Linked DNA regions of Homo sapiens: all the other regions are linked to region 3. Evidence: fine-mapped expression QTL. A gene starts in region 3. Each other region holds a variant in brackets. All regions are shown on one strand. Distances are from middle to middle. Region 1 overlaps KLHL3 (kelch like family member 3). Region 2 overlaps KLHL3 (kelch like family member 3). Region 3 holds the start of KLHL3 (kelch like family member 3). Region 4 overlaps KLHL3 (kelch like family member 3). Region 5 overlaps KLHL3 (kelch like family member 3). Region 6 has its middle 72 kb from the start of MIR874.

What was found. PIP is the estimated chance that this variant, and not a neighbour inherited with it, causes the effect.
Region 1: its variant is fine-mapped to the expression of KLHL3 in whole blood (INTERVAL, PIP above 0.99).
Region 2: its variant is fine-mapped to the expression of KLHL3 in whole blood (TOPMed, PIP above 0.99). The same link has a PIP of 0.9 or more in subcutaneous fat.
Region 4: its variant is fine-mapped to the expression of KLHL3 in whole blood (INTERVAL, PIP above 0.99).
Region 5: its variant is fine-mapped to the expression of KLHL3 in whole blood (TOPMed, PIP above 0.99).
Region 6: its variant is fine-mapped to the expression of KLHL3 in whole blood (INTERVAL, PIP above 0.99).

What each region holds. Positions count from the first base shown.
Region 1 is chr5:137,711,258-137,716,331 of GRCh38, forward strand. All of the region lies in intron 2 of KLHL3 (kelch like family member 3), which reads right to left. Among named protein-coding and RNA genes, the nearest start is that of KLHL3, 22 kb to the right of the region's middle. The variant T/C (reference allele first, on the strand shown) is at 2,502.
Region 2 is chr5:137,703,141-137,708,214 of GRCh38, forward strand. The region is part of intron 3 of KLHL3 (kelch like family member 3); the gene reads right to left. Among named protein-coding and RNA genes, the nearest start is that of KLHL3, 30 kb to the right of the region's middle. The variant C/T (reference allele first, on the strand shown) is at 2,852.
Region 3 is chr5:137,733,242-137,738,315 of GRCh38, forward strand. KLHL3 (kelch like family member 3) reads right to left here and starts at 2,848. Exons shown (of 15, transcript NM_017415.3): 1 at 2,392-2,848. The coding sequence starts at 2,405. RefSeq lists enhancers at 1,046-1,115, 2,447-3,115.
Region 4 is chr5:137,624,280-137,629,353 of GRCh38, forward strand. KLHL3 (kelch like family member 3) reads right to left here. Exons shown (of 15, transcript NM_017415.3): 13 at 4,018-4,158; 14 at 1,474-1,617. Among named protein-coding and RNA genes, the nearest start is that of MIR874, 21 kb to the right of the region's middle. The variant G/A (reference allele first, on the strand shown) is at 2,173.
Region 5 is chr5:137,693,123-137,698,196 of GRCh38, forward strand. All of the region lies in intron 4 of KLHL3 (kelch like family member 3), which reads right to left. Among named protein-coding and RNA genes, the nearest start is that of KLHL3, 40 kb to the right of the region's middle. RefSeq lists an enhancer at 1,156-4,116 and a silencer at 2,344-2,544. The variant T/C (reference allele first, on the strand shown) is at 3,072.
Region 6 is chr5:137,573,217-137,578,290 of GRCh38, forward strand. No RefSeq gene overlaps it. Among named protein-coding and RNA genes, the nearest start is that of MIR874, 72 kb to the right of the region's middle. The variant T/C (reference allele first, on the strand shown) is at 2,109.

The sequences.
Region 1 (5,074 bases), 22 kb before region 3:
AAATAGAATCATAAGGCCTGAAAAGGCTGGAGCTGCAAATGCTACTAGAGATCATCTGGTCTATGAAACTCAGAGAGGTGAAAAGATGCCCAAAGCCACAGAAGTCTAAGTCTTGAATCCAGTTCTCCTTACTCCAGACACAGTGACTTTTCCATGGTATCACAATGCCTCATGATTGGCTGACATTCAGAATGAGAAAAGACAGAAGACAGGTTAGCCCCAACAGGGAGAAGTGGACAGGAAGTAGAATAAAGTATCGTTAAGGAGGCTTCCTGGAAGGGTGAGACCTTTGGACAGCAAGAGGCAAAACCGGGGGATTGAGACCTTACCCTGCAGTGGACAGCAGACCTTAATCACCAACTGTATCAGGATAAACCAGTGCAACCAGGAACAGAACTGGCTCTTCCCCTAACTGGCTATGAGACCATGGGCAAATAAGCTCACCCCATTTTTCTCACCTGTTTTAGCTGCCTTTGGGACATATATCATGGGGGCCAAATGGGATTACAGGTGCCATCTGAAAATGGCCTTTAGTCTCATTAAATTTTATTCTAAAATTGTATTTCCAACATGAATAGACTCATCTTGGACATTTTTACTTACATTTAGGAAGAAAATTGAGTTATCACTGCTATTTAAGAATAACCACACTTTGGGAGGCTGAGGAAGGCAGATCACTTCAGGCCAGGAGTTTGAGACCAGCCTTGCCAACATGGTGAGACCCCTTCTCTACTAAAAATACAAAAAAAAAAAAGCCCGGTGTGGTGGCAGATGCCTGTAATCCCAGCTACTAGGGAGGCTGAGGCATGAGAATCGCTTGAAACCCAGGAGGCAGAGGTTGCTGTGGGCCAAGATCATGCCACTACACTCCAGCCTGGGTGACAGAGCAAGATTCTGTCAAAAAAAAAAAAAAAAAAAAAAAAAAGAGTAACCGGTTATATTTTTTGGTAACTAATAAGAAAATTGTTGGCAGAGAAGAGTCAGAAATGCTGAACAAATGTTCAGTGCTAGGAGCTGAACAAACAAATGTCAGGGTGTGTTATCTTGCACAAACCCAGGGAGCCTGACAATTTTTGAACAAATGGGAAAGAAACACAAGGGAATGAAGAATAAAGATGGAGAATCCAGTTAAGCAAATAAATGACAGCAGTTCTGATGGGTGGAAAGTGTATCTTAAGGCCAGAGAAACACTAACCTGGGAAATTGGCCAAAAGAAACTTGCCAAATAGTTAAGATGGGCTTTCCCTGGGGGTGGGGAAGCCTGTCTGCACACTGGAGACATCTTTATGTATCCATGCTACATGGAAGAGGGAAGTAGTAGCTCTAAAGCACTGCATGGCTCACAAGCACTCCTATTCAATTTACCTGGGATCCTATGGGATCCTTTTTTCCGAGCTATCACACTACTCCATCTTGAGGGGAGAAAAGTAGGACTAGACACTTTGCCATTTGTGGAAAAGTACAATGTAGCTGTTAGGAAGGAGCTCAGGCTCTCAAATCAAACTCACCTGAGTTCAAGCCTCTCAAACCTCTGTCCCACCACTCTCTAGTGTAGACAAGTACACAACGTCCCCAGAGTGTCACAGAATTGACATGTGCTGTAAATCAGATAATGCATAGTGCTAATAGTAAATATTTAGCAAATGTTAACTTTTCATATTTTGAAAAAAAATTTTAAAAAAATGGTTTTTTTTCAATTGTCTGCTTCACTTTTCCTCCATATCTTCTTTTTTCCAAATAATATTTCATTTAAGATTAGAGGTTAAGTTTTGAACATGTTAAGTTTGAGCTGCCCACTGGACACATAAGTAAGGTTACCAAGCAGGCAAGTGGTTACATGGTCCTGGAATTCAGACATGGGAGATGGTTAAGAGGTTGAGGGGAGGAATAACCAGCAAAAAAAAAAAAAAAAAAAAAAAGTGTGTAGCTGGGTGCAGCAGTACATGCCTATAATCCTAGATGCTCAGGAGGCTGCAGCAGGAGGATTGCTTGAGCCCAGGAGTTCACGACCAGCCTGGACAACATAATGAAACCCTATCTCAAAAAATATGACAGTGTGGTACTAGTATAAGGATAGCTATATAGATCAATAAAATAAAATTGAGAGTCCAGAAATAAACCTTTGTATGTTCAATTGATTTTTGACAAGGTAGCAAGATCATTCAACTGGGAAAAAAACAGTCTTTTCAACAAATGGTGCTGGGACAACTGGATATCCATATGCAAAATAATGAAGTTGGATCCCTACCTCACACCATATACAAAAATTTACTTAAAATGGCTCAAAGATCTAAAAGCAAGAGCTAAAACTATAAAAACTCTTAGAAGAAAACATAGGGGTAAATCTTCATGACTCCAAATAAGGCAATGGTTTCTTAGATATGACACCAAAAGCACAAACAATAAAAGAAACAATGATAAATTAGTTATCAAAATTTAAAACATTTGTGCTTCAAAGGATGCCATCAGGATAATGAAAAGACAATCCATAGAATGAGAAA[T/C]AATTTTTTGCAAATCATCTACCTGATAATGAGCTTGTATCTAGAATATGTGAAGAACTCAAACTGTTACAACTCAATAATAAACAGAAAAATAACCTAATTAAAAATGAACAAGAGATTTTTTTTATTATTATACATTAAGTTTTAGGGTACATGTGCACAACGTGCAGGTTTGTTACATATGTACACATGTGCCATGTTGGTGTGCTGCACCCATTAACTCGTCATTTAGCATTAGGTATATCTCCTAATGCTATCCCTCCCCCCTCCCCCAACCCCACATATTTCTCCAAACAAGATATAGAAATAGCCAAAGAGCTCATGAAAAGATGCTCGACATCATTAACAATCAGAGAAATGCAAATCAAAACCACAACAAGATACCACCTTACACTCACTAGAATGGCTATAATCAAAAGCACAAACAATAAGAAGTGTTAGAGAAGATGTGGAGAAAGTAGAAGCTTTGCTGTTGATGGAAATGTAAAATGGTGGCAGCTGCTCTGAAAACAGTTTGGCAGTTCCTCCAAAGATTAAAGTTGCCATATGACCCAATAATCCCACTCCCAGACATATACCTAAGAGAAATAAAAACATACATCCACACAAAAACTTGTACATGAATGTTCATAGCAACATTATTTATAATAGCCAGAAGTCAAATGTGGTATATCTATACAATGAAATATTATTCTGCAATAAAAAGGAATGGTGTACTGAGACATGCTACAACATGAATGAACCTTAAATGCATTATGCTAAATGAAAGAAGCCAGATACAAAAGGCTACCTATTGTATGATTTTAAAACAGGCAAATCTATAGAGACATAAAGTAGACTAGTGGTTGCCTAGGGCTGATGGGGAGTGGTGGTAAGGATGGGGTAAACTATGGAGGGGATGACTGCTAAAGAATACAGCGTTTCTATTTAGGGTGATGAAAATATTCTAAGATTGTGGTTGCACAACTCTGTGAATAAACTAAAAGCCATTAAATTGTAACTTTAAACGGGTAAATTGTATGGCATCTGAATTATGTCTTGATAAAACTGTTACCAAAAGAAAAACAGAAAGCAATATGCTAAGATGGTTCATAACAATAATAAAAGCATAGTGACAGACCATCAAAAAAAAAGATGAGAGCAGAGAACTGTTTGCAATGGTGAAATGGGAGATTAAAATTGTCAAAATGAGAAAAGAAAGACTGCATGTGGATTCTACTCATTGGTTGTTCCATTCTCTCTGCCCCTTCTTTTCAGGCCTGGTTAGGATGTGCTATTCTAAGAAGGCCCACAGCCCCATTTGCTTGCTGGATGGTAAGTCAGGAGTAAGAGTCACTAGAGCTCTGCCATCCAGAAGCAGCAGCTGTGGTCTGGCCACAGCAGAGCAACAAAGTGCAAAAGGAGGAAGAAGGCTTGGCAGTGACTATGCCAACAGCCATTCTCTACCATGGAGGTAAAAAGAATAGGAAACTCATGAATTGTGTGATTCATAAATTGCAAAGAACATGTGTGCTTGAACTAAAATAGCTTAAAATTAAGGGAAGGGAATGTGAAAGCAATGCAAGAAATAATCCCAAATCCCTGGAATATCATGTAACATTTCATTAGCTTAACCCCTGGATGGCAAGATGCTTTAGCCCAGGCCTCCATAAGTATACCCAGCCTCTCTCTAGTTCCCATTAAACTCACTCAGATCAATAAAGTATCAATGCAGACCCCCTTCCTCCCTGCCTCCCCTTTCCACTCTATTTTTCATAAGTTAGCCATTTAAATACCTTGGAATTTGATGTAGCCTTTCAATAACATGCGAATACAAGCTTCACTAAGGGCAAGATTTTAGTCCTCTTATCTCCTGCCATGTTCCTGAACCTAGCACAGTGCTTAGCACATCATCATCATCATCATCATCATAGCTAATGCTTACAGAATATTCATTATGTGCCAGGATCTCACAACAATATCTAAGGCATAGTTATTATTATTATTCTACAGGCTGTTCAAATCAGCAATTCTACTTCTCTTCTATACAAATAATCATGAATGTGTACAAGTATTCAACAACAGTAATATATGTGTTGTCACTGTTTTAAGCACTTCATTCATTAATCTTCTTAACAAGCCAGCAAGACTGGTACTCTTATTAGCCTCATTTTATGGTTGACAAAAGTGAGATCAGAGAGATTAATTAACTTGTCTAGGGTCACACAATAAGTACTAGAGCCAAGATTTGAAGTCAGAGTCTATGTTTGTAATCACTATGTTATATGGCTACAAAGATAACCATAGCAGGGGTTATTTATATGAGGAACTGGGAAAACCTAGACATCCAACAACAGGGAACTGTCTTTAAAAAATAACTCAAAAATAGAATATCATTGATCCACTTAATATTGTAGAACAGTTAATGACATAGAAAAATGTGTTCAATATAGTGTTAAGTTAGGTTGAGACGTAAATTTCTTTTTTTTTTTTTAATGAGATGGGTCTCACTATGTTGCCCAGGCTGGCCTCAGATTTCTGGGCTCAAGTGATCCTCCTGCAAAGCTGGGATTACAGTCACAAACTCCAATGCC
Region 2 (5,074 bases), 30 kb before region 3:
ACCACCCCTACATAGTTATATGTCCTTAAAGACAAGAAAAGGGAGTGTTCAAGAGTCCTTATGTCACAGAATACCTTCTTGCTCCTAACTTGAATTAGTACTGTAATTTAGTCTCATGTTCTGGGTAGAGAGAACAAAGGAAAATCCTTACCCTTTGCGCAATGATTCTTCATGGGCACTAAGATGGTTATGGAACTTTCTTCCCCCCAACCCTCATCTAAGTCCTAAAATCTGGGCTGCCAACTCATTTGGCTAGAGCTGAGCACTAAGGCCAAAGACATTAACCTCACAGGAGAAAAAGAAATACTCTGCCATCTCCTTGAATCCTGACCAACCCTGTTGCAGGTGAGTGGTCTGGGCCATTTGACTGCAGATCAGGGAATGTCCTTAGTTCACAGGTCCTTATGTCACATTGGGAGTGAACAGCAGTCTGTATTCCTAAGTGCCACACAGTCCTCTGTTGAAGCACAGGTCACCCTATATCACCTGTGAAATAAGGACATTCTCTGTTCTGCCTTTATCCCAAGGTTGTGTGAGAATCAAAGGAGACAATGAGATTGTGAAAGGTGGGACAGCAGGATCCAGCAGAACCACAGTGATAGACACCGCCTCATCACCCGCCCTCCCTGGAATCTCATCCCTCCTCCACCTGGAAATATCTTTCTGCTCAACTAGAAGCACGAGAAGCACAAAGTCAGGAAAAAAATGCCTCTGTGTCATTACATAGTGACTACAAAAAAAAAAAAAATCAACCCTAATCACCTCCACCCCCGACATCCACAAGAATTTTAAAAACTATGACGTGCTCTACAATAATAAAAGTAGACTTTATTAACTATCTACACAGTGCTGAGTGCCTTATACCCGTTACCTATATTTGTTCCCTACTTATTGTTATTATTCCAGTCCCTTCAATAAGAAAGCTGAGGATCAGAGAGGAAAGTGAATTCTCCACGCACCTATGCAGTTAAGATTGGAATACAGCCTGTAATCCCAGCACTTTGGGAGGCCGAGGCGGGTGGATCATGAGGTCAGGAGATCGAGACCATCCTGGCTAACAAGGTGAAACCCCGTCTCTACTAAAAATACAAAAAATTAGCCGGGCGCGGTGGCGGGCGCCTGTAGTCCCAGCTACTGGGGAGGCTGAGGCAGGAGAATGGTGTGAACCCGGGAAGCGGAGCTTGCAGTGAGCCGAGATTGCGCCACTGCAGTCCGCAGTCCGGCCTGGGCGACAGAGCAAGACTCCGTCTCAAAAAAAAAAAAAGATTGGAATACAGGTCATTATTACTCCAAAGCCCTTTCCAAGATACCACACCATCTCCCAGTGCAAGGCGGCATTACCACACTTGTGTTTAATCCTTAGTAAAGAGGCCCCCACATCACCAACTCCAAACCTCTTCTATGAACATTCATAAAATATTCCTTACCAATAGTTTATCTCCAATGGTGGTCTCAATTTTAAGGCTGAGCTACTCTAAACCCAAACAAGTCTACCTCAGACCATCTTGGTCAAACCAGTTGCACCTTAATGGAGAAACCACTGGAAGTGAATAGCAGTCTCTATTCCTGAGCACCACACAGTCCTCTGTTGAACCACAAGCCAAATTCCTGCTCAAGAAACTTGCCATTTCTGCATCAAGGGTAACATTATTAGACAGGACTACTGGCTCCCTCACCTTCAAATCTGGGTATCTGGGTCTCTTGAGCCAGAAAAAGATGCCTGACTTTATTGTGGTATGATAGGGACAGGAAGAAGAAGCCCTATGTCACTGTCACTTAGCCCAAAAGTGACTAACTCTAGAAGATAGCCACGTGGAAGGTGAAGCCATTGCTCCTTCATCCCAGGCAGCCTCTGACACCGCCATCCCTTTTTCTCTGAACTATTCTACCTAATCCCTGACTCCTCAGGGGCAAAACTCTCAGAAACCAGACCCTATCTACTACCACTATTACTCTGCAACCTCCCTGAAGGCCCACTTTGTCTAAGAAAAGAATTCTATTCCCTAGTTCTCCTTCTCTCATTGTCCATTGCCTTGTATTCAGTTTTGCTGAGCTGCATGTTATGCAGAGCTCTTCAAAGGCATCAATATACCACACAAACACTAGAACACAGACACAGCCACAGGCCAGGGCCTGGTAGAGTCTGGCTTGCAGCAAGGGTGAAACAACAGTTCTGTGGAAGGAACTTCATGCCTGGGAAGTGAATAAGACAGCCAGGCCCTCATGGTTCTGCCTTGTGGATGATTCCTGCCTACTCCAAGTCTAAGCCCCTTGTCTCTCACCCCCAGCACATTCCTGAACTCTCCTCTCTATTTCTACTTACCATATATTCAAAGATACCAAACATCAGCCTAAATCTAATAAAAACTGGACAGTAACTCCTCTTTAAAAAACAAAAACCAATCTAAATCAGCCACTACATACAGTACAATATGACCAGATGAGTGGGACAGATCACTCCCAGGGCTTCATTTGGGATGGAAGCCCAAGTGTCTTTTAGCCATGATTATGGGCATAAGACCCTGAGCCCATATATTCTGTAGACCTCAGTTCCTTTAACACCATAAAATAGGGGCTGTATCTGGATGACATGTAGGCAGGGACCCATATGGAGTACAAATACTACAGTATACAGAAGCCATGGTAAAGGGCATGATAAAGAGAGAAACACTGATGAGGAGATTTTGGGAAAATTGCTTCCCTTGGGATGGAGGTGCTGGATGGGGAGGATGGGGAATGAGTCCTAGACATTTCATCTTTATAGGAAAAAGATGGGCAGAACACAGCACTACTGGCCTCCCCACTCAAGTTATGCTGAAAGCAGTAAAGGGCAAATAGGTTGACTGCTCAC[C/T]CCAGATCTTCTTATAGACTGGTTGGATTGGGACACTCTCTGATGGGCACTCAGACTTCAGTTTCACATTTATTCCAAGTTATTGTCCACAGGACAATGGTCAAGAAGTGTGGGATTGGTATTTGGAACCACCTCAGGACATTTGGGCAACATGAACTCGGAAGACAAAAAAATAAAAACATTTAAGCTTGAGTAAAAGACCATAATCACACAACTCAAGTCAGAAGAAAGCCATGTGTATTTTACTTTCCTTTTGGCTTTAAACACACTGATAGAAATGGATCTAACGAGAGTCAGCCTCTTACTCTCAGTACACAATGCATTTTACACGTTTTGAAGCTGAACCTGATAATTAGAACAAAATTTTGCAATGTTACTGGAGATTTTTAGTATCTGTTTACCAAGGTTTAGGCAAAGCCAATGGGCCTTAAAAATATATAAATCTTAGATATCTTGCTGATGGGAGCATAAGCTGGTACAACTGTTCTTTAGATCAATGCGGCACATGTCTCAAAAGTCTTCAAAGTGTGCATACCTTTTAATCGAGTACTTCTTATTCTAGGAATCTATTCTAGTAAAATAATCAGGAATGTACATAAAGATTAAGATGCAAGGATGCCCATTATATCATTATTTATAATAACAAAATATTACATAAAACTATAATTTCCAACGAAGGAAATGAATTTTCAATTAGAGTATATATAATGGAATCTTATGAAGGCATTAAAATTAGGTTGTAACTGCAATTTCATTGACATGGAAAGATATTCATTATATATTGCTAAGCTCAATTAAACAAATTTTTATTGATCACCTGCTATATGGAAGACCATGCTAGGCAGCAGGGACATGGTGGTGAATTTTAAAGGTATAGTTCTTACCCTTATAAAGAGTATGATTGGCCAGGGAAATCAAACATTGAGGAAGTAATAAGATGAGTAGTAATACTAAAGAGAAGTATAAAGTACCATGGGAGTAAGTAGCAAAGGAATTTAACCTAAGCCAAAGAGGTCATAAAAGGCCTTCCTGAGGAAGTGATGCTTAAGCAGTAATGAAGGATGAACGGGAGTCAGACAGGCCAAAAGATGGAGGAGAGAACATTCCAGGAAGATGAATAGCAATTTAAAAAAAAATACATACATCAAAAAAGGCTATTTAGGCTGGGAGCAGTGGCTCATGCCTGTAATCCCAACACTTTGGGAGCCGAAGCAGGTGGATCACTTGAGGCCAGGAGTTCAAGATTGCCTTGCCAACATGGCAAAACCCACTCTCTACTAAAAATACAAAAATTAGCCAGGCATGGTGGCACACACCTGTAGTCCCAGCTACTCAGGAGGCTGAGGCACAAGAATCACTTGAACCCAGGAGGCGAAGGTGGCAGTGAGTTGAGGCTGCACCACTATACTCCAGCCTGAGCAAAAGGGCGAGACTCTGTCTCAAAAAAAAAAGACTATTCAACTGTACACATTAAATGAACTTATGTTAAAATATATATTTTGTATATGTATACATTTATAAATATAAAATCTAAAAAGATATAAACCATACTCTTACCTAGATGTTGTAGTACACGTAATTTTTTACTTTTTGCTTGCCCACAGTTTCTGGTTTTTACCTGTAATAAACACATGTGAACAGTATTTGGATGGACGGGTGAATGGATGGGTGGAAGGATGGATGGTAACCAGGTTTAATGGAAGGCTTGGGCTGGGCATTGCATTACACTGCTTTCTTCTCTTGATTCTCCCGTCCCTTCCATTCCTAGAATCTAAGAATGCCCCAGAAGCACTTTTTCTTCCAATTTGTAAAATCACTTTGGTTTTGCTATGACACTTCCGCTACTTCAGAGGCAAGTTCGTTAACAAAAAGTGGAGCCAGCATGACAATTCATTGCAATTCCAAACAGATTCCTCTCTCAACACTGAACTTTCCAAACTCCACACACAAAGAATAACTGGCAGAGCTATTTATTGAAGTTACAGCTAAATAACTATTACAGACAAGATGAACTATTTTAAAATAGAGATTGATGAAGGAAAGGGGGAAAAAAGGAAATAAAGGCCTTGCAGCTAGGGTTTAGGACAACTCAAAAGGGAATGCAGCTCAAAATTTCCAGATACTGAACTTAGCTAGTTTTCTGGGCTACAGTGTGAAATTCCTGGCCCAAGGCTGAAAGTAAGGTAAGAGTAGCCTGGTCCACTTAGCAGAGGCACCACTCCA
Region 3 (5,074 bases):
CCTCAAAGCATTCCTTGAAGTCAGTTACCCGTGCTAAGATAATAAGGCTGATATCCAAAGATGAGGCTATTGGCCAAAGGCTTCAGTCTCTTCTTTCACCAACTTTCTTTTTAGTTATCAGAGCCTCACACAAAAGTTATTAGCTAATCAGCTAATAACTATTCAGCACCTGCTATTTGTGTACCCATGCAGTAGTCAATGGGGGTATTTAGAAGTACAAGGCACCAGCCTTGCCCTTGAGGACCTGTCTCCAAGTCTGGGGACTGCTAAGATATATGAAATAAAAGCACTGAAAGATCTGGTGGGCCTATTATTCAGTGTCCAACTATGAGATACAAACCAGAGGTATTAGAATTCCGAAGAACATCAGCCAGGACTAGAAAAGCTGAGTTTCCAAGATAAAGTAGAATTTTAGAATAACCTTGATAGATAGATAACTTTTGCAAAATTGGAAGGGAAAGACATCCAGCAAAAGAAACTCTGGGAGCTAAGGATATGAGGCTAGATGGAGTAATGTATAGGATGGGTGATCATGAAAGAGATCAACAGAATTCTCAGTAGGTATATGAGTGAGCAGTGGAAATGGGAACAGGAGTTAGAGTTCAGAAGACTTGAACGCGTGGCATGGTAAGCTGGACTTGGAGCAGGAACAAAAGGTATGACCTGGGTGACCTGGTGAACATTGGAAGCTGCTCGGTTTGGATTTCTTGTCTACCATCTGCCTTCAGCAGAGGAAAAGTACAAGAACATGTGCAACCTGGTGTTCTAAAGCCATAGACATCAGCCATCCCAGCTGAGAGGCCCCAGGACAGGGGCAAGGACTCACTATATTTCTGAACACAGAACTGGGAACACAGTGCCCAAAACTGTTTGATCCGCTGCTGGTAGTCTCACACTGACCTCTCAACCCCAGTTACACCACAGGTCAAGCAAATAGGCATGGCCCAGAATCTCTAAACCTTCATCGCATCAACCCCATTCTCTGCCACCTACCAGATCAATGGGACACTGTTTTGGGGACCAAAGACACTGCTCACCTCTGCCCCACACTTAGGAAATAGGCCTTCATATTCTGCTGCTCAGCAGGCCTCACAGAGTTCAACACTAAACTCCTGTTGCAAAGAGCACCCAGAAAGAGAATGCACCAGCAGCACAGTCAGTCCCAGGCTCTTCCTGTGGGAGTCATCAAGAAACACAGTTCCCAGGGCCTCTACAGACAAAAGAATGACACCCAATCATCATGCTAGTTCTAATAGGGTCTAGAGATGTTTAATGGCATCACTGTGCCCCGTGAGACACAGAAGTCACAACAACTCATGAAAAGGAAAGTGTTCATTGAGATACTCTCTAGTGTTGACTTAGTTGAGCCTATTATTGTTAACCAGATGGTTACTGTCTGCATCAAACTGGCAATCTGGAGCAGCAGGCTTCCCCTCAGTGGTGCACTGCCATGGCCGGACCCCTCCCTGCAGTCTTCTCTCCTCAGATAAAATGGCAAGCCTCGTACTCTACCAACTGCAGACCAAAGAATGAAGAGGTTGGCACTCAAGAGATATTTTACTTCATAGACAGAGGAATGTCACCTCTGCACTGCGCTGAGCACCTTCACAATGAAAGATTCAGATCTTCAGATAACAATTTAAAAATTTAGATGTGTGTGCCTGCCAGGATCTAACTGCCTCGCTAGTTAGATCCAGCTCAACAAAAGTACTTAAAATCTTTTCTGCTGGTTCCTATTTCAAAAGAAATCCCTGATGGAGGAAGCACAGACCTTCCAGTATCACTCATAAACTTTTCAATACAAATATGAAACTCAGTTCAGAGCAAGTATCATCTGACTGGGTTTCTCTCCTTCATCCCTGAATGTGTGTGTATACAGGCATACACGGCGTGCACGCGCGCACACACACAGCCATCAGCATGGCATGCTTGCTGAAGATTCAAGCACTCCTGCGTGAAAATGCAAGTACACTATGTCAGGTCAGCCCCACTATGACATCAAAAACCCCCCACCAAAGAAAAAACACCCCGGGAAAGGAGCCAGGAAAGGGAAACGCCTCCTTGAAACAGCCTGAGAAAGGCAATCTGATTCAGCCTGTGCTGAAACTATTCCCGAACACCAGCCAGGAAGTCCCTTCTTTCAGGGTGCTCCGCTGCCTAGCAAACCCAGACCTGCCTTTGCGGAAGCCAGATCTCTGGAGATTCAAGCCCTGGAACGGGTGATTTGGAAAGCGGCTTTCCTGCTCTTGTTCTGGCGCCCTTTAAGATCCATCAGTGGCCAGGTCTTCCAACTCTGCCTAGCCAATGCAAACACAAAAGCTGGTGGCTGCACCGCAAGCACACATACACTTACATACACACACAACACAGCACACACTTATACATACATACCTTTCACCCTCCATTGTGTGAGGCCCAGCCAGGGTGGTAGCTGCTGAACTGTGTATGCACTCGGGGATCCTAGTTCTGTTCTTGATTCTCCCAGCAGACCAGTGGGAAATCTGATCAGCAACAGTGATTCAGCATGGCTGCAAGTGAAGCCTCCTCCCTTCTCAATCCTCCTTCCTCTGACTTACTCGCAGCAGCTTCTACCGCAAAAGCAGCAGCAACAGAAAATGTCTTACCCAGAGCTCCCTGCAGCCCTTTCAGCTGCTAAAAGCAGCAACCCACTTGCTCCCCCTCCCCCGCAGGCTTGCTGCTCCTTGGTCTCCTAGGAACGGCGGCAGCTCCAGCGACCCAGGTGCACTGCCACCTTTCCAGCTTCCTCTGCATCTGCCCAGGCATCCCCAGCCCAGGCGATTAGCCCGCCCCTGGGGCTCCTGCCTCCTCTGTCTAGGCTGCAAAGAATCAGGCAGTTCGTCACTAGCCCGAGAAATACTGGCCCCTACACCCTCCCCTGCTCCCATAGGCTATGAGTCTGTCAGCCTGGCCAGATTGCTGGAATGAGGAGGCCCCTCTGTGGCCTGCAGTGGAGTTTATCATCCACCTGGGGAAATTCACTTGTAGGTCACAGTTTATGTTCCAAATCCTCCTCCCAAATTCTGTAGTAGCTCTGAGTGTCTGATAGATGGGGAGAAGTTAAGGGAAAAGCACCTGACAGAAGTGAGAAAAACACAGAGAGAAATTAAGAGAATACAGAGAGAAATTGGAAAACTAGTCGAAAAAGAGAGGTAGTACAAATAGGTGAAACTGAAACAAACCCTATTTTACTGCAAGAGGCCAAAGACTACTGCAGTAAAGCTATCACAATGAATACTAAAATATCTTAGCACAATCCTAAAATATCTTCCTAAAATCTGTCATATTGGAATTTAACTTAAGCAGTGGCTCCAACTAGTAAGTCTCCCACTGAACCCCCATATCCAGCCAAAGATCTTTCACATCCTGTAATCTCCAGCTGCTGAGCTTCAATTTAGACTAATTTAACTCTCCCTGCCTGAAATGCCTTCTCCAATCCCAGTCCTTTAGTCTTTCTGGGAGTCCAGTCAAATCCCATGTCTTCATAAAACCTTCCCTAATCACACCAATGACAGTCAATCACCACCAAAATACACAAACTATACTTTCCTGTATCGTCATCTCACACCTAATATACAGTCTTGGCTAATTCATTATTTATAAATCTTCTTTCCCAAACTAAAACATAATCTTGTGGAAGGCATGAGGCCAGTCTGTATATCCTAGCCACAGAGGCTTAGAGGTAACTGGGACAATTAGCTGCAAAAAGTGGTGCAGAAGCTATCCTAATGCCTCAGAAAAAAATCAGCTATGAGCATCTCTCTTCTGGGACACCTCATGGCACCCCTGGGCTTTTCCGAATCCACACCAGCACTCACTGGGTGAGTGACTTTCCTGAGTAGTGTTCTCCACACTCTGGACCTCATGCTCAGCTACTCATTCACAATATAGGGTCAGACCAGACAATCTTTAGAGTCCCTTTCAGCTCCAAGATCACAGGATTCTAAAAATGTTTTAAATGGTCCGTTTTTCTTCTCAGAGTAATCCGTGTGATTGTTTAAGAAGAAATACTAGGCTCCAATGTGTTGTAGGGGGCTTCAAGGAGGATAACATGATGTAGGTGAAAGTACGAAGAGACGCTCAGTAAATCTATCATCCTTATCATTTTAACCTGTTAAATTTCTTCACTACTACAAAGCCCTAAAACCACAGAAGGAAGAGAGGAACACTGAGGTGACAGAAAGTAAAAGTAACTAAAACTTTATATAGCCTCCTGAACTCAAACTGGCTACAGGGTTATTCTCAAAGATTACCTCCCCTGGCACCTCAGTGTTCTCTTAGACAAGGCCATTACTCACACTCACTCTTTCTCAAGTGAGAAGAGGCCTGGATAATTTCATTTACACCCCACAGGGCTGTATCTTCACTTCTTCCTTGCACAACAATACCCCTCATATCTTGTTCCCTCTATGTCCCTTCCTCCTCTAATCAGCCTTGTGGCCCTGCTCCAGATATTTCCTCTTGAGGCCAATCACAGGGACCACAAAAAGCTGAACATCACAAATAAGGAAACTGAATCTCGGAATCCGTGCCAGAGTTCAGACATCCACCAGGAACACAACTGGGTGATTCATAAAAGGGACATAAGAAAGAGATGACTCCTCCTTTGCACATACCCACGTTTACATATTCGCCATACAGGAAGGTGTGGAAATGCCACATCTAACAAACCAGACAAAGAAAAAAGATCAGAAAAGGAAATATGTAAGGGTTGTATGTATTCAAGTTTCAAAATATAACTATTAAGAGCCAGTATAAAACCCTGCTAAATTTCCCTGCAAAACCATACGACTACACCTTCATACTTTATTCACCACTCATGATTCACAGGAGGTAGACAGAATAGAGAACACTCAGAAGAGGCCATTTAGAAAAGAAAGGTCATCTTAAGCAAAAAGAACAAAACTGGAGGCACCACATTAACTGACTTCAAACTATACTACAAGGCTACAGTAACCAAAACAGTATGGTATTGGTACAAAAACAGACACATAGACCAATGGAACAGAAAAGAGAACCCAGAAATAAAGCTGTTCACCTACAACCAACTGATTTT
Region 4 (5,074 bases), 110 kb before region 3:
GGGCAGACAATGAAGAAAGGGACATGAAATATTCAGCATATATATGAAATTCTAACCACCCACACTTAACTCTTCCCCTCTCATTAAGGCACACATGGAGTCAAGGGAAGATTCCTCACTTGTCTCACTCATCCCAGAACAGAATTACTCCAGGACCAAACTTCTTCTAAAATGTTTTATACTTAGCCAAGAAAAGTATTACAAGGTGAAAAAAACTCTAAAGGAAGAAAAAAGTTAAAGTTCATTACAACAGAAGTCTTATGTTGAAAGAATGTGCTGCAAACTCCTTCAAATTTGCACAGCACAATCTTCCTCTGCAGTCAAACAAGATGGAATGACTGACCTTTATAATGCAAAATGGGAATCGGAAGAATATTCCTGGAGTCGTGGTATGGATTAAAAGAGATAATGACTATAAAATACTTTGGATAATGCCTGGTATGTTCTGTGCATGCTGGATCAATAATGTTATCTCTATTCCAGGTTCTGGAAAACCAGATACAAGGAACTGAACTACACCATGGATATATATTTGCTCATCTCCCCATGGACCCAACCTTAGTAGTACCAACTCTGATGCCACCCCTGCCCCTGCTACTCACCAAACCCCTCACACACACTCCCCAAGAAGCTTCCACACCCGCCTGGTGCCTTACTCTAAGGCTTACCCTGAGCTGGGGTAGCACAAAGGGCATGGACTTAGAACTCTGGGTTTGAACTCTGACTTTGCCATTTATTAGCTGTGTGGCCTTCAGCAAGTTACTTAAACTCTCCAAACCTGTTATATCATCCATAAAATAGACGGATAGAGTCCCATTCAGCCCAAGGGTTGTTGAAAAGATGAGAACAAATGCACACTCTGTTCCTAACACACTGCCCCATGGCACGGGGCCAGCCACGCAGTAAAGGACAGCTATTTGTGTGATTGTGATCCACCCTCAAAGTTTAATTGAGCCTATCTCCTCCAGGAAGGGTTCCCTGGCTTTGCCAGTTCTCACCAGTCTTTCATGTGCTAAAACCTGTCTAGCGTATGTCATTTAGAACTTGTATATGCATCATCTTGTCTTCCCAGTTGTCCAATTCGACCCTGGACAACAACAATCGCATCTTATGCCATCTAGGAGCCTGGCACAAAGTAAACCAGGAATGGCAATGAAATTCTAAAATCACTTGTGACAACTCAGTTCAGTTGGAAGTGGTTCGATGGAATGAATGTTATAAATTCTGAGGCTATCTTCAGGTTCACAGGGTTCGGGCAGGGGCAGGGGTTAATAAGTGCTAATTATCAATATCTGTCATGAGTGCAGAATGAAGGAGTGGTGGCCATGTAACAATTACCTGTCATCCCTGGAGGAGGCACTCAGGCCCAAGTTAAGCAAGCTCACATCCCCTCATCCCACTGGCCCACCCAACCCTCATTCCCCCAGTGTGTTGGAGGCCTCTCGGATGGGCATGGAGATGGCACACACTGACCTGCATAGCTCCGCCCCGTGCTCATGTTCGTTGGAAGCAGCGTCCATTTGTCAGTGACAGGATTGTAGTACTCCACCGAAGCCAAGTTGCAGGATCCATCATCCCCTCCAACCACATACAGGAGCCCATTTACTGCACAGACCCCTGTGAGTCAAACAAAAGCCATGGGAGACATCACAGCAGGTGCACTAAGAGATCAGAATTGATCAAGAGACAAATCTGGATAGCCTGGGAGGCTCTTTTCCTCCCTTCATGGCAATACAACAGAGATTTGGCTCCACAGGTTTGAGTTTGCTAAGTGAAAGAAAATATTGACAACAGCCACTGGGCTCCAAGGATCCTTCTTCCTAACAGGATCATTTCTCTGACCAGGGAGTTTTGATTACTTATAACGTGTATGCCCCCCGCCACACACATACCTATACTATAAGTATGTAGAGCATATGGGCACAGACCCCTCTTTAATGGAAAGGTGTATACAGACCTCCTGTGCCAGGCCTGAGCTAGGGAATAAGACAATTCAGGGGACTTCATGCATGCTACTCCTTCTCTGCTGCTAAGTTTTTCCCTGATAAGCCCTATGTTATATTCACACTGTGTGATGCTGATGGTTATGTCTCTAATCCCTTTACAAGACTGGGTCTACATTCACACACAACTCCCAGGGATGCAGAACAGCTCCTACTCTGATCTCAAAGG[G/A]AGATGGATTTTGGGCAAGGTCTCATACAGCAGGGTCTAAGGCATAGGAAAATGTAATGAATTATTGCTCATTAAGACTTTCAAAGGCCACAGTCCAATATGTTGTGTATTTTTTCAAAATTAGATTAAGGGATTGGTGATACTCTAAAAAGTAGTAATTATCAGTGTTGCTGAAGGTACTCTCAAATACTGGTGAGACGAAAAAATGGACACCCTCCTGGATGGCGTCTAAAATACATGTGCTTCCTCTGATTAAAAAATTCTACTTCTGGCCAGGCACAGTGGCTCACACCTGTAATCCCAGCACTTTGGGAGGCCAAGGCAGATGGATCACTTGAGCCCAGGAGTTCAAGACCAACCTGGGCAACATGGTGAAACCCTGTCTCTACAAAAAATACAGAAATTAGCCAGGCGTGATGGCGCATAACTGTGGTCCCACCTACTCAGGAGGCTGAGGTGGGAGGATCTCTTGAGCCCAGGAGGCAGAGTTGCAGAGCCAAGATTATGCCACTACAATCTAGCCTGAGAGAGCGAGATCCTGTCTCAAAAAAAAAAAAATCCATTTCTGGCCTTTTATTCTAAAGAAATAATTTTAAATGTGTGTACTAATTTAGCTATAAAGACCATTTATAATCACTCAAGTATTACTTATAGGATAGAAAAGATGGAAATAACCTGTGTCCAATAGTAGATTGGTTGTTTAAATTATGATATAGTCATTTAAAATAATATCATATAAATAAGTTTAGTGTTGTAATAAGACGTTCATGAGAGATTGTAAAGTGAGTTTTTTTAAAAAACAGGTTATAAAATAGTGTTATAGTGTAATTCCATTTTTGTTATTAAAAAATAGAAATATCTATGTATGAATTTTATACAAACACACATTTACATCTAAACTGAATTCCCAGGTTCTAGATAGACTAGCTGCCTTAAGGGTCCTGTAATTCTTTGCTCATGTGGCTTAAAGCCAAATGAGAACTTGGCAGCAGGCTTAGGCAATGAGTAAATTAGTAAATATCACCACCCCCCCCCCCGGTTTACACTTCCAAGTCAGCCACGAATGGGCTTAGCAAACAGGTAATATGAGAATAATGAAAATGGATCTGCCTGAAAGTCACCTGTGTGTCCTTCCAGCCTGGGAAGTTGGGCTAAGCCAACACTTTCCTAAAGCAAAGAGGCATAAAGGATATACTGACACAGTACACGACCCACAAGGCAAAGCTCAAAAAGGAAATAGCTTAAAAGGGGCCTCATGCTCCAAGAAATATAAACCTAAATACACTACAGTAAATCTTTCCTACAGGAAGGCATAGGAGACAAGAAGGAAAGCAAAGACAGGAATACAAAGAAAGCAATAAGGAAAGGAGAACTCATCAAGGGTCCAACTGTCCCTGCAAGGAAGGAGACTGCTTTCAAGTAGGAAGTGAGAAGTTCTCCTAGCCAGGCACTGGCAAAGAAAAGATAGAACCAAGTGCCATTGTCTGGCCCTTGTCCACAGAGCCCTGTCCTTAGCTACCTACTAAAGCTGTTGGGCAGCGGGCACTGATGGCAACCAGAGGACTTTCCCAGGTCTGTGCTCATCTGTGTGCGGTAAAAGTCATCACCCTTCACTGCGGGGAAAGGGGATCCTCTGCATCTAGGTTGCAGGATCTGCAGCTAGCTTTTGGGGTCTCAATTTCTCCCCTCCTCTAATCAAGAGCCCACCTGGCAAATGCACACTCCCTGTTCAGGATATACGCTCAGCTCCAGACCCTGGGAAATCTCCCTGCTGTTTAGAGCCAGTGTCTTCAGGGAGAAAAGGCACACAACCCCCAAAGGGGAGATGGAGAGAGCAGTCATTACCTGCGTTGCGCCGGCACATGTTCATGTCTGCCACTTGCTTCCAGGTATTTGTTCCAGGATCGTAAACCTCAACGCTCTTCCTCACCAAAGGCCCATCATGCCCACCTGTGGCGTACAGCTGTCCGCTAAGCACTCCAACCCCTGAAAGGCAGAGCACAGCATCCCAGCCTCATGCTGACTACAGTAACCAGAAATCAGGAGGCCTGGCATCCAGTCCTGGACAGCCCTGACCAGTGAGGGGACTTGGGGAGTGCCATTTTGTCTCCCTGGACCTCAGTGTCCTCATCTGTAAAACAAATATAATGACACCCTACCTGCCTCCTCATAAGACTAGCAACCTCAAAACTTTGAAATATAATGCAAATGTGACCCAAATTCTGTTTTTAAAAAACATTAAAAAATATATATATATATATACACACACACAGACAGACAGACATACATACATACATACATACATACATACATACATACATACGGGAGAGGATGTTCATAAGCAAAGAAAAAAAGACAAAAAATACTGAAATAAATCCATTAAAATATTAAGAATAATTATTTCTGAGTGGTAAATTACATTCATTTTCCTTTTTTGCCTATCTATATTGCCTAGTTTTCCTACAATGCTGTATTACTTACTCATCCTTATATTAGTTGAGTAAAAAGAGTTAAAAATTGAAACTAGCCACACAGCAAAAGTGCTGAAATTATCATCAGGGAGGCCTCCCTGCTGGTCGTGTAAGCAGAAGCTGACCTTTCTGCCCACTTCTCTCCTCCTGTACTGCAGAGGGCATTATCAGATCACTCACCGTGTTGATCAGCCTGAGCTGAGTGCTAGAATTGCTTCGTTTACAAGTTTTAGTATAATCTTTTAAAATCCTTTTATACAACAAGAAGATGAAAGCCATAAAGAAGGAAGACAGCACAGTATCTAGAAAGTGCAACTGACCTGGTAGCTAGGACACCTGTGTTCTGGACCTGTCTCTCTGACTTGCTCACTGGGTGACCCTTCCCCTTTCTGGGCCTCAGTTTCCCTATTTGTAAAGGGAAAGAGTTGTAC
Region 5 (5,074 bases), 40 kb before region 3:
CTCTGGGATTCAGGGGTAAGCAAGAGAAACCAGATCCTGTTCTCCTGGAGCTTAGAGTCTACTGGAACAAGATTCATTCCAAATCCCTCAGGACTCAGGCAACGACACTTTATTCTCCCATCAAACAGATACAAAGCAAAGAACATCTTTAGGTACATTCTTAGAGAAAGGAGAGCTAAGTTTCCATTTAAAAGGTCACAGGACACATGACTATTTATACTATATCCTGAAAGACAGAAATAGTTCTTGCTCAGGTGTATATGCATGTGTTTTTCCTAAGGGTCAGGGAAGACTGGCTTGAGCAGGCCCGCTGGGTGCTCAGACAGCCAACCTCTATCAATTTTCCCTAGGACTTTCCCTCAGCTGCTGAAGCCTGCCTCTAGATCAAACATACAGGACAAAAGGCCAAAGTCCTGTCCCACTCCAGCTCTGCTACCCTGCCCTTCACCTATGGAAGCAGCAGGTAGTCTGAGAATGATTTTCCAAAAAGAAATTTAGAAAAAAAATCACACTACAGAATAGCTTGATTTAAGGCTGCTTATCTTGGGGACCCTGGCATCCACTTCACCCCAAAATAATCCCCTTGCCCCAGGCCTTTGCTCTCAGCTGCTGCCCTGGCTCTGAGAGAGTGACTGAGCCAGCTACACTCTAGCTGTTCCCAGCCACAAGGGCTTGCCCAGGAAGATATGGGCTGCAGATGCATTTGTTTTCTTGATTCAGGACACTTGAAAAAGACTTCTTTTTTTTTTTTTTAAGTGCTTTAAATTCTGGACTCTTTCTCCCAAGACAGCTCTGAGTCCTCAGCTCTGACTCTCATCACTTTTATGTACTCAGGCCAAAAACTCTGCCCCACTGCCCATTTGGGGGCTTTGTCCCTCCACTGGGTTTACCAACAGTCCTAGTTTTTCCAGGACTGGGGGTTTCCCAGGACTTTCAGGGCTAAAAATGGGACAGTCGGTCACCCTTCATTATCCCTGCCCACAGACAATAACCACCAAGAGCCACCACTATCAGTGCTCGAACTCCTGAGCCAAATGCCTACGCTCAACAAGGAAAGCTGCTCCTACCCACAGGCTTACACTTCTCTCTCACGACAGCTGAGTTCTAGAAAACGTGCTCCTTTTCCCTTCCTCCATCCTCTCTTCCACTATCCTATATCCCCAGCAGGAAAACAGTAAATTAACACCATGTCTGTGATATTTTCTGAACCACTAATACATTCCTGAGAAAGAAAAAGATAAAATCACCCTCTTCTGAAAGTTTTGGACTATAAATGAACACAGCCAGGATCCAAATCTAACCACCTGAACTCTCTCCCCACTAAGCAGCCATCATCTCCTCTAAGCAGCCATAAACTGGGAAACTCAATTAACCTGTGAGCTTGCTCAGCCCGGCCGAACAGATTCCAGGACCAGATTAGTCTCTGCCTGCTAGTCAAATGGGGATCCATTAACCATTCTTGCTGAATGCACACCAGGAATAAAAAGCTCTGCTCCCAGTCTCCAAATGACCTCCATGACACCCCCTGGCCAGTATCAGCTAGAGTTAAGACTGGTGTCAAGGCCATAGGTTGACCAATCATGCTGATTTACCTGGGACTTTGCCATTTTTACCACTGAAAGTCCCCCTCTCAGAAGGCCCCTCGCTTCTGGGCAAAATAGGATAGGTGTTCATCCTAGGGAGGAGTAACCTCTAACCAGTGACCCTCAGAAGCCCTGAGGGAGAGGAAGCCATCAAATGTTGGCCAGCACAAACCCTACTCAGAGGTGTGGTAAACTCCAAAAGGGCCAGATGTGAGAAGAGGCAGGAATTCAACAGCAACCCTCTCCCCACCACCCACCATCCAAGAGGATTTCTGAGAGTCCAATCTGCCCTCAGACTGCATTCCAGCGAGCTCCCCAACCCCATACGCATATACAAGATCATGCCAGTGACACACAGTCCCTTCCCCCTTCCCCTCTTCCAAGGAGACAGCAGCACAGTGTGGTGCTTAAATTCTCAAGCTCATGACAACCAGCCAGAGAAATGAAATAATAAATATTTCCTGAATATACTCCTTAGGTTACACTTTCCATTTTTAAAACCTCCCTGGATAGAGCTACCCACATGGCTTTCAACTTCCCTACTGTTCACAATACCCACTTAGTAGGCAAAAATTATAAGGCTTTCTACCTCTCCACACCCCTTATCCTGTTTGAGTCCACTCCTACCCAAAAGCCTTCCCAAACCGACTTCCTAAAATGAATGGGCCTTCTGGTTTCTCTAGTTGCTCTTTCCCTCTCTTTGACTCTGAGACTAGCTTAGAGTCAAAGGCCATTTTCTTCCTTCTACTTGCTTCATACAGAAAAGTGTGGGAAAAAAAAGTCAAGGAAATCAGAATGCTGAAGGGAAGGCTTGGAGGCTGGAAGATGTATCACTGCTCAGACTCTGGGTCTCAGGGATAAATTAGGGCCCCATCCAATGGGGTTCTGGGATCTAGACACAAGTACAAAATACATTCCCAGAGGCCCTGAAAGAAAAAAGAGCAATACATCCATGAAATGACTGTCTTCAGTTCCCTCTCCCCACATCAACAGGGCTTTGAGAGGACTTCCTCTTCTCTTATCTTGCCTGAAACTCTACTTCTTCAAAGCAGCAGCAGTGACAAGATTATGAACAAAAGGCCAAGTGCAGGTCCTCAGCTCTGAAGCAAGACCATCCTCATAGAATAACTAAGGCAGTACTGCCTGGTCCCTGGAGGGAGGAGGCTGAGATCAGAGGAGTAGTTGGCCAAATCCACCCATCAGGATGGAAGATTACCGTAAGTCAAAAATCTTCTAGCTTGCCTTCTGCCACCTCAGCATTACAGTTCTTGGAAAACAGGCCCTGAAATGGCCCCCAGCAAGAGTCTACAGGTTACCCTTCAGCTTGCAATGGCTTCCCCTCCATTTTTCATGTGCAGGCCCCGTTTTGTTTTTTTTTCTTCCTCAGATAACATGAAAACACAGCAGAGGATATCCTGCCACAGAGTTTGCTTCCTCTAGCAAAAACAAAAGGAAATGCCCTGCCTCAGAAAGCACCTTCTCCTGGAA[T/C]TGCAGGGAGGCAGGGCCATGCACAGAGGGAGGGCATCAGCCAGGGGGCGCAGGTGTTGGGGCCACCCAGGGTCTCTGCCCCAATCACACAGTGGGTCTGGCACAGAATCAGTGCCACATAAAGAAAGAAAGGAAAAGAGGTGGGGGGGTATATAGATGAACAGGAAAGCTGGCAGAACAGCACTGTGATTAAGCGTCATTTTGAATTTTGACTCCTCCACTTACCAGCCATGCAACTGAGGACAAATTACTTAACCTCTCAATGCCTCTGTCTCCTCAAAAATAAAATGAGGACAATAAGGTTTGTTATGAGGATCAAATGAGAAAAATTTAAAGCAGTTAGCACAGTGCTTGGTACATAGGAAGTGCTCAGTTGATGTTAGTTTTTATTATTGTAAATAATTATGAGCCAAAGTCAAGGTTCTGATCATTCATTTCATGAGAAACTAGAATTCATCATAGCCACAGAGCACAGTGAGTCAGAGGGGGCTGGCTTCAGCTTCCAACTCTACCACTTACTCTCTATGTGACCGTGGCAGTTTATTTAACCCCTTTGAGCACCAGTTTCTTCAGCTGTAAAGGAGGAATCATATTGGTATGGTCCAATGGGTGATTATAAAAATTGAATGGAATAATGCATGTGAATTGATGGGCACATGCTTGCTTATAAAAGTATGACTGCTGGTACCTCCACCACGGAACAGGAACTCAGGGTCCCTCCAAGGTACGTGTGCCTGGGAAGGGACTCCAGGTGTAGCTCTCACAGCCATTTAACCAAGCCCCAGATCTCTGACCCTTGTTTCTAAGGCTTTCAGGAAAGCCCCAGTGCCTCCATGCTCATCTCCTCGGTGCACCAAATCCTCAATACCTCCTGTCTTCACAGACAACCTGTGAGCAACCGCCTCAGCAGATACATAACAGCATGAAGAAGAATCCATGTTTTTATCCAAACTCTCTTCTTCCCAATCTTTTTTTTTTTTTCTTTTTGGAGACAGAGTCTCGCTCTGTCATCCAGATTGGAGTGCAGTGGTGCAGTCTCAGCTCACAGCAACCTCCGCCTCCTGGGTTCAAGTGATTCTCCTGCCTCGGCCTCCCAAGTAGATGGAATTAAAGGCACCTGCCACCACGCCCAGCTAATTTTTGTCTTTTCAGTAGAGACAGGGTTTCACTGTGTTGGCCAGGCTGGTTTCGAACTCCTTACCTCAGGTGATCTGCCTGCCTCAGCTTCCAAAAGCGCTGGGATTATAGGTGTGAGCCACCATGCCCAGCCCCTTGCCAATCTTTCTTGTTTTTTCTCCAACATCACCCTTGACCTAACCACAGTTTAAAGTGAAGAGATTAAAAGTCCCCAAACAATGAGGTTCAGAGAATTTTCAGTTTGGTGAATGCATCCACATGCTGGGAGGGTGACATAACCCAACCTCATAAGACAGAAGCTTCTGGACTCAGGACCACCAAACAGTGAACATTATGTCCACATAAACTGTACCTTGCTTTATGTACCTCTTAATCCTAACCAGGCAATAAGGATCCAGAGTAGAATATCTTCTAATTATCCAAGTTTGTAAACACTTTGTATTTTACAGGAAAAAAAAGTTATTAAATAAATACATGATGAAAAGAGCAAAGAGAGCTGGTTCCAATTATAGACTTCTACTACCTCCCCTCTACTCATTTTATGCCAAATTACTTTGCACTTACTGTTAGTACCCAAAAGTTATTCACCTGTTTGAATTCTGAGATGAGACGATGACCTGGGGAGAATAGGAGTCACCTAAGCTCCCAGCTTTTCCTTCACAAGATTTTGAAGACATGAGTTAAAGATCTTCTACTCCCGGGGCCCAGGCTCATTCAGGGATATCATGGCCTAGTGGCTAAAAGCATGGGTGCCCAAGCCAGGAAGGCATGAGTTTGAGGACCAGCTCGACCACCTCCTGGCCATGTGGCCCAGGGCAGGTCACCTGACCTCTCTGGAGCTTTAGTTTCCTCTTCAGTAACCAACT
Region 6 (5,074 bases), 160 kb before region 3:
GCTCAGTAAATATTAGCTGCAAGACCTATGAGGCAGGTCTTATTTTACAAACAAGAAAATTGACATCCAGAAGGTTAAGTAAGTTAGCCAATGCTGTACAGCTAGAAGTGTACAATGGGATTAGAACTCAGATCTGCCCAGTTCTGGGGTCAGAGCCTACTAACCAGCACGGGAGCCTCCTTTAATACCCTCAACAGACCAGAGTCACAGTGAGTCCACAGACCCAACCCAAGCTGCTCCAGTCCTTAAGGATGAAGGTCCCAAGAAAGCCATCAGCTTGGCCAGCAGAACTGTTTTTCCCCTGGCTCTTTTCTGGCTCTGGGTTCACACAGGCAGCCCCGCCCCCATGCAAAGGACTTGGTCCTCATCCTCTTGCATTTTCACTCTGCTCTCTCCCAACCCAGATGCTCCAACCCAGCTCCCATACTCCTCATGCTGGTTGGACATTCTCTCAAACAATATGATTCATCCCAAACTCAGTCTCTTCCTGCTCTCATTCCCAAATAGTCTCACATATCTCTCTCTCTCTCTCTTTTAATCCTTCCAATTATCCAAGTTCAAAATATCCCAACCCTGACTTTTCTGCCTGGCCCCCTCCTCCTTACTCCCCTGTGCCATCCTTCTAGGCACCTGGGCTCCTCTATTGCTATTCCCCACACCCTACCCATCGACCTTTCAGCCCACGGCCCTCCCATGCCATTCCCAGGCCAGCCTGCTCCCAGTTCATCACCACCACTCCCTGGACTGAACAGCGGTCTCCAGTACATCTCCCTGCTTCCAGGCTCCCCGCACCTATCGACACCCCTAAACAGGATGCCTGACAAATCTTCCAAAGCCCAACTCTGGCCAGGTCCCTCCTTTATTCAAAATCCTCCAGTGAGCCCATACTAACCCACATTGGTAAATAAAACCCAAGTGTCAAAGTCCACTAGTGTGAGCTGGTTGTAAGGGATCTTTCAAGCCATATCCCACCATGGCTCTGTGACATGTGCCTGCACTCCCAGCTGATGGGTCTGTCAGGCATGCCATTTCTCAGACTTGCCTCCTGCTCTACCCTGGTCCAGGCACCAGTGTCATCCAGGAGAAGGGCTCAAGGGAAATAACAACATCAGCAGGACCATCCTCACAAGCCAAATGATACAGGCATTAAGCCATTGCTGCCCATGTTAATTCCATGTCATCAAGTCATAAGTTGGGTTCATTCATGAGCTAACAGCAGGAAAAGATTCTGCGGCCTCCCTTGTCCCCAGGAAGACTCATAACCAGAGCAGAAGTGGGAAGTCACCACCACATTTTCTGATCTACACCAAGTTTCCTAGAGGAAGGACAGGTAGGTAATGGAGTTTCCTACTCCTTTGGGCCCATGGGAGGCCCAAGGGCCATGGTAATACAGAACCCTTGTCATATTAACTGTGAAAAGAAAGTGGGGAAAGGTTTCTAGTGGAGTCTTGGGGAAGGCAGGTGAGGGTAAGGCAGCACAAAATTGTGGGAGTAGGGAAAGCTGGCATCCTTGGAGATGACACCAGGTCATGGTGTCCCTGTGGGCTATAGAGGATGGAGTTTCTGGTCCCTGTTATGCCCTCAAGTGACTTACATTTTCATAAGGGAAGGAAGTTATTCCAGAGTAATTCTGGAGTAATTAAGGCTCAGAAGTCCAGGGGAACATTCATTAGAAGCACCTTCCCTTGAGCAGGGCTTTCTTTCCTCCTTAAACCTGAGAAGGCTGGGGCCTTCCTTCCCTCTACCATCCCACCACACATGAGGAATCCATCCCTAGATGGGCCATCCCATGACCAGACCTCTTCAATTCAATGCTTGGGGGTCCCTAAGTCAACCCCTCCCCACCCCATACCCTGTCCTTGTTTCAAGTCTGATCCTCCCTTGCACATTGAGCTGATTAGGGCTCCTACTTTGGCATTCCAAATGCCTAATTGGGAATAATTACAACTCTTAATTACACTTCAATCATTACATACCAACACCACAGCTGCTTTTAAGTTTTATATTTCATTAAAGCAATGTTTTCAAGAGCCCATTTAAAAAGGTGGAAAAACTACTGAATAATCATTTATAATTTAAAAGTAAATAAGAGCAAATTATGATCATGT[T/C]TGTGAAACAAAACACTCTATCCAATCCAGTTAGTTATTAACCTAAAAATCTTTCTGAGTCACCTGGAGCTTTAGGTTCATGTAGTAAGCTCGGTGACTCTGACTCTAAAATTCCAGGCTTCATTTCCAGTGGTAAAATGCTAGAGCCCAAAGCTATAGAGTTTCCAAGAAAGGATGGCAACAACAAAAAAATGTGGTCAGGGCAGAAGGTCAGGTATCCCAAAGCAAGACTCCCGAAGACAATAATAACAATTTCTTGTATCGATACAGCACTTCCCATCTTAGAATGTATATTCAGGTGTATTTGTGCATAGGTCCAAGCCTCATTTTTTTGATGGCTCTTAACCTTTTAAAGGTGTAGTCATGAAAATTATTTTCCCCAGAAAAATGCACATTCATCAACCATACATAAGATTTTTCACATAATTTTAAGAGGTTCACAAATTCTTACACAAGGTCATCCATGAATTTCTTAGGATTTGTGATTTACAAAGTTCTCAATGTTCATTGTTTTTTCTAGTAAATGATGAAAGCATGGAGGCACCTGCAAATTATATGTACTGTGAAATTTCTAGGCGTGATTCTTTACTATTCATTCTATAGACATTGACTGAGTGCCTACTCTGTTCCAGGCATTGGGCTTGTTGCCAGAAGAGAGTAAAGATGTGGTGATGAATCAAACAGGGTCCCTTAGGGAAATCCCTTAAGTGGGAGAGGCAAGGGAAGGATGTGGGTTACGCTGAGGAGGAAGGAAGAGGAAGTACTAGAAGAATTTTGGTCCCTGGGATGCTGCCAAGCTGGGGCTGGCCTCCCTATAAAAGCTGCAGGAGGAATGGAAAGGCAGGGAAGTGTCCTGGCACCAAATACACAACAATGATATTAACAGCAAGACCTGAGTCCCATACAAGTAATTCCAACCCCTTGAAAGCAAGCTCATAAGCTTAACCCAGCAGCCAGGGAATGTGATCCATTCATCCATTAATTTCCAGGGGTGTGCTGAGTGTCTTCTGAAGACCCTACACACTCAGCATAGGAACGAGAATTCGTGACAGAGATATTTGCTGTAAGAAAGGCAAAGACTAAGTGCAAAAGATGTAGCTAATTCCATAGGTGGTGTAATAGTCTGTTCTCATGCTGCTAATAAAAACACACCTGAGACTGAGTAATTTATAAAGAAAAAAAGGTTAATGGATTCACAGTTCAACATGGCTGGGGAGGCCTCACAACCATGGCAGAAGGTAAAGGAGGAGCAAAGGCACGTCTTACATGGTGGCAGGCAAGACAGTGTGTGGAGGGAACTGCCCTTTATAAAACCATCAGATCTCATGAGACTTATTCACTATCACAAGAACAGCAAGGGAAAGACCCACCCCCATGATTCAATCACCTCCCACTGGGTCCCTCCCATGACACATGGGGATTATGGGAGCTACAATTCAAGATGAGATTTGGGTGGGGACTCAGCCTAACTGTATCAGGTGGTTTATTGCAATGACTGCTCCCATGTGACATTCTAGTACCCTAATTCTGAGCTTGGCTTCTGATGTTTACAACCTGTTATTTTGCCAAGCAAACATTTGTTTGTCTACAATATACTAACATCACTATTTTGTGAAAGACATTTCCTTATTATCTAAGAATAAAAATAAAGGACAGTTTCATAATGAAGGCCACTCCTCACCAGAAAAAAAGAGTTGGCATTTCACACCATGTGTGTACCCACAACACACACAAATACACAGTTTACATTTCCTTATTTTTCTAATTTTTCTAAAGACCAGTGAAATTTTATCACAGCTTAGCACCAGTTCACAGAAGGACATTTGGAAACCACCATAAGGATTTGAAAAACAAAGCAAGAGCAAAGTATCTGCAGAGCAATTTGCCTTGCCAGGATCAAAGAGAGAAGGTTTTCAGTGGCAGAACTGTCTGGGCTGGGTGCTGAAGGATGAAAGGAGCTCGAGCTAGTGGGTTGCTGGAGTCCTGCAGACACACTGGAGTGAAGGCAGGTGGGGAGAAGCACAATAGGAAACCTCATTAGTTTTGTCTACTAACAGCCCTTAATGTCCACATCTAACTTTTGTATCTTATACATTGTCATTTCTAATCTGTTCTTTGTTCTCCAAAGGTAGACTTTCCTAACTAATGGACAAAGATTTCAAGTTATTACTGGGTGGCCTTGTTCCCCAAACAGCAGTTCAGTTTTGTTAGCTTTACTATATTTGTGTGTTGTTCCTTATTTTTACAAATTCTTTAATATTAGATTATAGGGGGATAAAACCAAAGACCTATTACTAGAGGAAAAACAGCATATAAGCACTGTACAGTTTAGAAAAAGATGAAGTTTCCTTGATGATACAAAAGCAGAATAGTACTTGCTGGACCTAAGCCAGTCAACTACATGTTTAATTTTGAAAAAGAACAAAAATATTTTTCAAAAATTTGACCACAAGCATTTGTCTCTTCTCCCTCTGAAAATCCCACTAAAATGATAGTAAAATAATTTTTTTTTTTTTTTTGAGACGGAGTTTTGCTCTGTCGCCCAGGCTGGAGTGCGGTAGTGCAATCTCGGCTCACTGCAAGCTCCGCCTCCCAGGTTCACGCCATTCTCCTGCCTCAGCCTCCCGAGTAGCTGGGACTACAGGTGCCCGCCACAACACCCGGCTAATTTTTTTGTATTTTTGGTAAAGACAGGGTTTCACCATGTTAGCCAGGATGGTCTCGATCTCCTGACCTCATGATCCGCCCTCCTCGGACTCCCAAAGTGCTGGGATTACAGACGTCAGCCACCGCACCCGGCCCGAAAGTAAAATAATTTTTAAGTATAAATAACCAAAAGAAAAGAGAGTGAGAAAGGAGATAACAATGAATGAAAAATTTCTACAAGGCCAGACGCATAACGCATTACCACACTATTATCAATAATGTTTAAATGCTTAAATATGTTAAATTTTTGTGATCTTTCC